Regions from separate parts of the Homo sapiens genome. Here region 1 is linked to region 2. Evidence: fine-mapped expression QTL. A gene starts in region 2. The other region holds a variant in brackets. All regions are shown on one strand. Distances are between the middles of the regions.

Evidence for each region. PIP is the estimated chance that this variant, and not a neighbour inherited with it, causes the effect.
Region 1: its variant is the best candidate, but not a certain one, in a credible set for the expression of HYCC2 in whole blood (INTERVAL, PIP 0.55).

What each region holds. Positions count from the first base shown.
Region 1 is chr2:200,915,588-200,919,987 of GRCh38, reverse strand. The region is part of intron 15 of ORC2 (origin recognition complex subunit 2); the gene reads left to right. Among named protein-coding and RNA genes, the nearest start is that of NIF3L1, 28 kb to the right of the region's middle. The variant T/CT (reference allele first, on the strand shown) is at 2,095.
Region 2 is chr2:201,069,151-201,073,550 of GRCh38, reverse strand. HYCC2 (hyccin PI4KA lipid kinase complex subunit 2) reads left to right here and starts at 1,880. Exons shown (of 13, transcript NM_001321623.1): 1 at 1,880-1,941. NDUFB3 (NADH:ubiquinone oxidoreductase subunit B3) reads right to left here and starts at 1,550. Exons shown (of 3, transcript NM_002491.3): 1 at 1,492-1,550. RefSeq lists enhancers at 1,028-1,651, 1,788-1,877, 1,898-2,167, 1,652-2,277, 2,268-2,407.

The DNA of each region.
Region 1 (4,400 bases), 150 kb after region 2:
ATGAGCACCTGACTGGTCATAATGGAGAAAAAGCAGACTTTTCATGACTTTTACTTAAATTTTATGGTTATTTTTCATTACATATTGAACATTCTGATCCAAACAGTGAGTACTTTATATGCATTACTTCATTTGATCCTAACTAAGGTGGATAGTCAGTGGCACAAAGACTTTGATCCAGATATGCCAGCTCCAAAACTCATGCTCTTAAACATCACTGTATAATGTCTCCAGTCAAGCCCTTACAGCAGCCTAACCTAGAGGCATATCTGAATTAATAAATGCAAGCTGGTTATAGCATAAGCCAGCAAAAAATAAATTGCATAATTAGCCGGACGCAGTGGCCTACACCTGTAATACCAGCACTTTGGGAGGCCAAGGCAGGTGGGTCACTTGAGGTCAGGAGTTCGAGACCAGCCTGGCCGACATGGGGAAACCCCATCTCTACCAAAAATACAAAAATTAGCCAGGTGTGGTGGCACGCACCTGTAGTCTCAGCTACTCAAGAGGCTGAGGCCGGAGAATTGCTTGAACCCAGGAGGCAGAGGTTGCAGTGAGCTGAGATTGCACCACTGCACTCCAGCCTGCGTGACAGAGCAATCTCTGTCTCAAAAAAATAATAAAGAAATTGCATAATTAGCCTGTTGAAAGAAGCTTTTAGTAACAAACTTTACCCCCTGACAAAAGCATAAAATTATAGAATTATATTTAACAAGATGAAGTGTTGAAAAATAACAAACCTTGCTGAGAATAGATAATTAAGAGCTGGATAGATGAAAAGAAATATTGTGTTCTTGGGTGGGTAGATTAAATATTATAAGAGTAGCAATTCTTTCCAAGTTAGAAATGTGTTAGACTTGCCAGGCACAGTGGCTCAAGCCTGTAATCCCAACACTATGCGAAGCTAAGGCAGGAGGATTGCTCCAGCTGGGACCTTGAGACCAGCCTGGGCAACATAGGGAGACTACATCTCTACAAAAAATTTTAAAAATTAATTGAGTGTGGTGGTGTACACCCATAGTCTCAGCTGAGGAGGCTGAAGGGAGCCGAGATTGCGCCACTGCACTCCAGCCTGGGTGATAGAGCAAGACCCTGTCTCCAGAAAAACAGGTATTAGATCTATAAATTAGTCAAAATGTAAATGAATTTTTTTGTTTTAAATTTGAAAGAAAATTTAGTTTCCTAAAGAATAAACAGTCAGCTGGGTGTGGTAGCTCACACCTGTAATCCCAGCACTTTGGGAGGCCGAAGCGGGTGGATCACTTGAAGTCAGGAGTTCGAGACTATCCTGGTCAACATGCTGAAACCCTGTCTCTACTAAAAACACAAAAATTAGCCGGACTTGGTGGCACACACCTGTAATCCCAGCTACTTGGGAGGCTGAAGTGGGAGAATCGCTTGAACCCAGGAGGCGGAGGTTGCAGTAAGCCAAGATCACGCCACTGCACTCCAGCCTGGGTGACAGAGTGAGCCTCTGTCTCAAAAAAAAAAAAAGAAAGAAGAAAAAAGAAAAAAAGAGGGAACAAGCAAGTCTAGCAGAGACAATTTCTTTTTTGTTTTTAAAGAGCAATGAAGGGACACTTGTGGTCAAGATGGCATAATACTTCTCACTCTTTCCTTTCATCCCCTCTTGTTCCAAACACACAGCATAATAGACAGAATTTAAAAATAAATACCCTGGCTCAAAATACAAACATCTCAATACAACAGAATGATAAATCAGTGAGCAGAGTTGAAGCCACAGCACAGCTGCATTCTTGGTTTAGAAGCAGCATTGGCAGCCAGGATATTGACTTATATGGGATGATAGTAGTGTGACGATATATATTGTCCAAACCAGATATTTTCGTTTAGGACAAATGCTGAACTGAACAGATGTTTGTTGTAGAAATAAAACCATATAAAATATATAGCATTCAAATGTATATATCAGTATGAATAAAAGTTTAAAATGTGCATGGAATTAGGTCTTTTTAGGTACTAAAAATAATAAAAAAAAATTAGGTACCAACCCTGGAGAAGAATAAAGGGGAATAGATAGAGGAGAGTGTACACAGGGACTTTGGGGATATCTTTTTTTTTTTTAACCCCCCC[T/CT]AGCAATTTATTTTCCATTTATTTTTCTTTTACCTGTGTGTTTGTGGTGGAGGGATTAACTTTTTGTTGTGAGATGATTATAGATTCAGAAGAAGCTACAAAAATACATGCAGGGAAGTCTCATGTACCCTCCTCCCAAAGCACCAACTTCCACCAACCACCACCATCTCATATAAACACAGTACAGTATCAGAACCAAGAAATTGACATTGTTATAATCCCATCCATATTTGGATTTCACTATTATACATGCTGCACTCGTGTGTGTAAGTTCTGTGCAGTTTTGTCACTTGTAGCCTTGTATGACTGCCACCTCCATGTATACACTCAGCTGTACCATCACCACAAGACTCAAATGTTAACCCTCAAATGCTAATTTTAATGAATGTTGTTACTCTGTAAAGCTGATTTGAACACTGAAGATGAGATTAGCATTCAACTCGGCCAGGCATAGTGGCTCACCCCTATAATTCTACTACTTTGGGAGCCTGAGGAGGGAAGATTGCATGAGGCCAGGAGTTTGAGACGAACCTGGGCAACGTAGACCCCATCTCTACAAAAAGTAAAAATAAAGCCTTGCATTAATATTGGAATATGCAGGCTGGGCGCGGTGGCTCATGCTTGTAATCTCAGCACTTTGAGAGGCTGAAGCAGGCAGATCGTTTGAGGTCAGGAGTTCGAGACCAGCCTGGCCAACATGGTGAAACCGCATCTCTACTAAAAATTAAAAAATCAGCTGGGCATGGTGGTGCATGCCTGTAATCCCAACTACTTGGGAGGCTGAGGAGGGAGAATCGCTTGAACCCAGGAGGTAAAGGTTGCATTGAGCTAAGATCACACCACTGCACTCCAGCCTGTGCAACAGAGTGAGACTCTGTCTCAAAAAAAAAAAAAAAAAAAGGTGGGGCACAGTGGCTCACACCTGTAATCCCAGCACTTTGTGAGGCCAAGGCGGGCAGATCACGAGGTCAGGAGATCAAGACCATCCTGGCTAACATGGTGAAATCCCATCTCTACTAAAAAATTAGCCGGGCGTGGTGGCGGGCACCTGAGGTCCCAGCTGCTCAGGAGGCAGAGGCAGGAGAATGGCGTGAACCCAGGAGGCGGAGCTTGCAGTGAGCCGAGATCGCACCACTGCACTCCAGCCTGGGCGACAGAGCGAGACTCCGTCTCAAATAAAATAAAATAAAATAAAAAAATTGAAATAGGCATTAAATGGTTATCTAATGAAATTTTTTGATGGAATTGGGGACAAAGTCTTCATTCTGTTTTGTTATTACTAATAATAAAAGTCCTTAACTGCTGAAGGACTGTTGGAAGTTGCTGTGTGTAAAGTTGAGGGTCCATGCAGTGTGAGAACTCAAAACGTTAAATATGGCACTGGCTACGCTGATGCAAGTTTTTTTTTTGAGATGGAGACTCATGGTGTCGCCAAGGCTGGAGTGCAGTGGCAAGATCTCGGCTCACTGCAACCTCCCTCTCTGGGGTTTAAGGAATTTTCATGCCTCAGCATCCCACAAGTAGCGGGGACTAGAGGCATGCACCACCACACCTGGCTAATTTTTGTATTTTTAGTAGAGATGGAGTTTCACCATGTTGGGCAGGCTGGTCTTGAACTCTTGACCTCAAGTGATCCACCCACCTTGACCTCCCAAAGTGCTGGGATTACAGGCATGAGCCACCATGCCCAGTCTAATGCAAGTATTTTTTAGTTTGGCATGCCTAAATGTCTGTGTGCTAGCCTCAGCATTTTCTTATTTAAACTATTTTGAAATTTTGCTTGATTCTGCAAACTCCAGTATCATTTAGACTTTACTTGGTATGTGATTGAATAAAAATTTTAACCAAAATTCAGCTCTGGAGTTAGTAGTAGTACCTAGTTAAAAAGTAGTCATTGAGGGCCGGATGCGGTGGCTCACTCCTATAATCCTAGCACTTTGGGAGGCTGAAGTGGGCGGATCACTTGACGCCAGGAGTTCAGGACCAGCCTGGCCAACATGGTAAAACGTTGTGTCTACTAAAAATATAAAAAATTAGCTGGGCGTGGTGGTGTCCACCTGTAATCGCAACTACTCAGGAGTCTGAGGCATGAAAATCGCTTGAACCTGGGAGGCCAAGGTTGCAGTGAGCCAAGATCGCACCACTGCACTCCAACCTGGGCAACAGCGAGATTCTGTCTCAAAAAAAAAAAAGTGTTCATTGAGATGATCCAAAATATGATTATAGTAATTGTTTTCTGGACCTGCATAACAATGAAAATTCATATAAGTTTTGAATTTTTGGCATACCCAAGGACTGATGGGAGT
Region 2 (4,400 bases):
ATTATCCGCCTGCCTCGGCCACCCAAAGTGTTGGGATTACAGGCGTGAGCCACCGTGCCCAGCCTAAGAAATATGTTTTTAAAAGAACCTTTATAGCCACATTGTTTATTCTCTCTCCCAACTGTAAACAACCCAAATGTCCAATAACAATAGAAGGGATTATGGTATAGTCACACTGTAGAATATTATACAACAAAAAACTACATGCAAAAGTGTGATTGAATCTCCACAAATATGGATAATGAGCAAGGGGTGAGTCAGAAAAAAATACACATGCACTCTGAACCCATTTATATAGATTGAAATGCCTAACAATTCATTTTTTAGGAATTCATCATAGACGGAAAAATTAAAGTAAAACAAGTGAGTGCTTAGCACAAGTCAGGATAATGGTTACCTCTTGGTGGAGGAGATGGAATCACAGAAACATACTGGGAGATTCTAAGGCAGTGTTTTTCAACCAATTTTTAACTATTGTCCCTGTAAGGAACCTTTCTAGACATTTTATTCCTAATCACACCCCCCGCCATGAAAATTTAACACTACATATATACTGTATAACTGTTTATATACTGTGGCCCTTTGGAGGGACACAAATCATTGTAGTAACTAAGATTCCGACCCCGGCCCCACCAATTTTCAACCCCTTGAAATGTAAAATCACCCCTGTTAAGACTGCATGTTCTAAGTTATTGGCAATGCTTTATTTTCTAATCTAAGAGGTGGATACAGGAGTGTCTGCTTCTGTTAGTTATAATTTTTTAAAATGTATGTTTTATACACCCTTCTGTATATATACTTGACAATAAAAAATAAAAATAGAAAAATTGACTTAAATTGTGCTGAGGACTGAAAAATGGTGGTTATTTCCGTTTCAGAGCAGCTCAAATAATAACAGTAAGGAAATTAGTTAAATAAAGAAAAAACATGCAACCAAAAATTTTAAAAGCTATCTATGTCTGAAGTGAATCTAAAAGTCTCATGAAGATCAACCTCCACTAAAGGAAGCTGGCTCTAAGAAAATGTGCTGGTATCCTTTCCCTAAGAAAGAAATAAGAAGATAATGCTACTTCCACTACATGCAATTTTAGTTTACCGAAGACTATCAAGTATATATCTTAACTTCCTCGTATTAAAAACTGTGATTATATGAATATTAGAACATAAAAAACAAATGAACTGTTATTACTTTTAGTGATGCTGTTCTTCTGCCTTTGCGATCCAAAGGCAAACAAAGACAATTTTGCGTGTGGCAGAAGCGGGAACAAGCACCTGGATTTAACAACTACAGTAATGATCACTGAATCCTCCAACCACCTCTTCCTACCCCAACTCTAAACTAGGACTTCATTAGTTCTCGCCTGCTAGTTCTTTGATCTCCCTCCCAGCCTCCCATCCTTCTCCATTTAGTCTCTCCTTTTCTGCACTCCCCAGAATAGAGTCTAGCTCTTAATCCTAATCAACGGGCCTCCCACCAACTCCCTAATTTACCTGACAGCAATCTGACCTCTCAGGACACTCAACTCTGCAACCGGAGCCAACCGGAAACGGAGGTTGTCACCTCGAGTTTCTCACGGCAGGAAAGCGGAGAAGCCGCTTAACGTTCCGATACTGGGTTAGAGATTCCTGAATCAGGTAGAGACTACATGAGGGACGCTGGAAGTCGATTATTTTCCCAGTATATGTGCATCCTCAATCTGACTGAGGTAACAGATACTGTAGAAAAGAGAAGGGCGGGGAAGATAATATGTTGTCCTTGCTTGGGGACGGAATCCTTAGACACCGCACACAGGGCGGGGCTGCCGGCATACTGCAGCCAATAAGGGAGGCTGTTGTTGAGAGCGTGTTCTCACCCAATGAGAGGGTTGGTTGTTGCGCTGCAGTTGGCAGGCTGCTGCGGGAGGCGGCGGCGGTAGGAAGCCGGAGACAGCAGGGTGACAGGTAGGCGGCGGTGCTGTCTTTGGGGGAGGCAAAGTGCTAGATGAAGAGGGGTTTTCTTCTCCTTCGGCCGCGGAAACTACAGACGGGAGCTGGCGAGGGTGGTCTGGAAAGGCGGTAGCCGGTGTGTTGGTGGTCCCGGAACCTCTCGTAAACCAGGTAGCATCTTGGGAGGGTCGTGAGGAGGAGAAGGCGGCAGCCGAGGCGGGTGGAAGCCGAGCCTTGTGGGGCGACGTGGGGGCCCACCTAGGGCGTGGGGGCTGCGGTGGCGCCAGCAGAGAGGGAGGAGAGGCGGGAGCAAGGCGGTGTCGTGAGGGCTGAAGGGATTCTTTGCACAAAGCCCCAGGCGAGAAAAGGACACGGCATTGAAGACAGTTAAGAGAAATCCCAGTGATTGCTTCTTAGGGCCATTTCCTGGGGGTGGTGAGGGGGAGCGGAGAAGAAAAATATTTACTGGCGGTCAGATTCTGAACACTCATTATTGCTGTACATTATGTAATCTTTGGCTGTTATTTACCCAAACAACTAGGTTGTCCCTCCTGGGAGAGGAGGTCTTGCAACCTATTAATGTGTTAGAACACTTTTTTCATTGGCTTGAGTGCCATTTACATTGGCAGGTTCTCTAGGCGAAGGGTGGTAGCATGGAGGATAGAGTAGTCACGAAGAGCTTATCCCAATTATGGACTTGACAGATACTAGTTTGCGATGAATGTGGCCAGGTTCATGTTTTGTAGTTCGTGAATTTATTTGAGGGTCAAGGCTGACAACATTTTTTAAAGATCTTCAGAAAAGTGGGGAATCCTTTAAAAATGTACAGTAGGAGCTCAGTGTAAGTTGGAAAATGACTAGAAAATTAGTTGGTAGATCCCTTCCTCCCCCCAGGATATTGTGGAAGTTAGGGACTGTGCAAATAAGGTGGTGGTCTGAATATGGGGAAAAAAATAAACTTTTTTTTTTTTTGAGACGGAGTTTCGCTGTTGTTGCCCAGGCTGGAGTGCAATGGCGCGATCTCGGCTCACAGCAACCTTCGCCTCCCGGGTTCAAGCCATTCTCCTGCCCCAGCCTCCGGAGTAGCTGGGATTACAGGCATGCGCCACCACGCCCGACTAATTTTGTATTTTTAGTAGATACGGGGTTTCTCCATGTTGGTCAGGCTGGTCTCGAACTCCGGACGTCAGATGATCCGCCCGCCTCGGCCTCCCAAAGTGCTGGGATTACAGGCGTGAGCCACCGTGCCCGGCAGAAAAAAGTCAACTTTTAAGTAGTTTGTTCTGTAAGCAAGTCTGAGAAGCTACTTATGAATTATTTATTAGGTTTAAAAAGTGGACTCTGAACCTCTCGGACAGAGGCAAAATATATTTATAGATATAATTAACTAAATTATCTTATTTAAAAAAATTTTATAATTCATTGTTTCCACAATAAAATGTAGAATTAAAATAGGAATTCTATTCAGTATGTGTTATGGAAGGGCAAACGACATAAAAACTTGATTTTGTAGGTCATTGAAAAACAATTTTGAGAGCAGCACTGGAAAATGATTTTAAAAGAAGTGTTATAAATTTCTAAAATGTAAGGTGTTTGAAATATTGCCTTTAGCTTAGGAGATAAGGTCTAATGTAGTGTCAGCAACTCTACAATTTTCCTAAATTTATTTCGGTACTGCATGTCAGAAAAACTTTATAAGATGTGATTTTTTTCTATTAATGGTAATTTATATTCCTATATATGAACCTAAATCAAAATTTCATTTTTTCTCAAAAATTTAATTGGGAAAGAGGTGCATCATTAAAGTTGTTTGTTCCCAGATGTTCTCAGTACTGAGACATTTGTCAGTGCTTTAGATAAAAATTTTTATTGATGTTTGGTGTTTTGTTCTTTGTCTTTTCTCCTTTTCCAAGAATAATGCAATCTCAGTCACAAAGAAAATTTCTGGTTCTATTTTAGGTGGAATTCTGTAGTGTTTTGAGTACCAGTTAAATCTTTGCTTTTATGCGTGTGTGTGTGTGTGTTGCTTTTATGCGTGTGTGTGTGTGTGTGTGTGTGTGTGTGTGTGTGTGTGTGTGTGTTTCTTCTTATGTAACCAGCCTACTAGAGCTGTCTTAGAGAACTAATGGCTGATTTTGAATGGCCAGTAGGTGTCATTGTAGAATGCAGTAAGTTGAGTATCGAGTAGGAAATTACCAAGTAGCTAAAGAAACACTAGTCCAAATTAGCATATAGTGTGGTTAGATGATCGTTTATACGTTATAGAAGTTCTCTCTGATGAAACATTTCAGTATTGGAGCTGTTTATAAGGAATTTGAAACAATGATTGTAAAGGAGTTTAATTGTTTGCCCTAAAATAGACCTTGAAAGTGTGTTTTTTAGCCCGGCCCTTTAACTGTCTTGACATGCAATTCAGATTTAAGTTTGATTATTTGCAATACAGTTTTGGCATCTTGTAGTAGTTTATTAAGTTC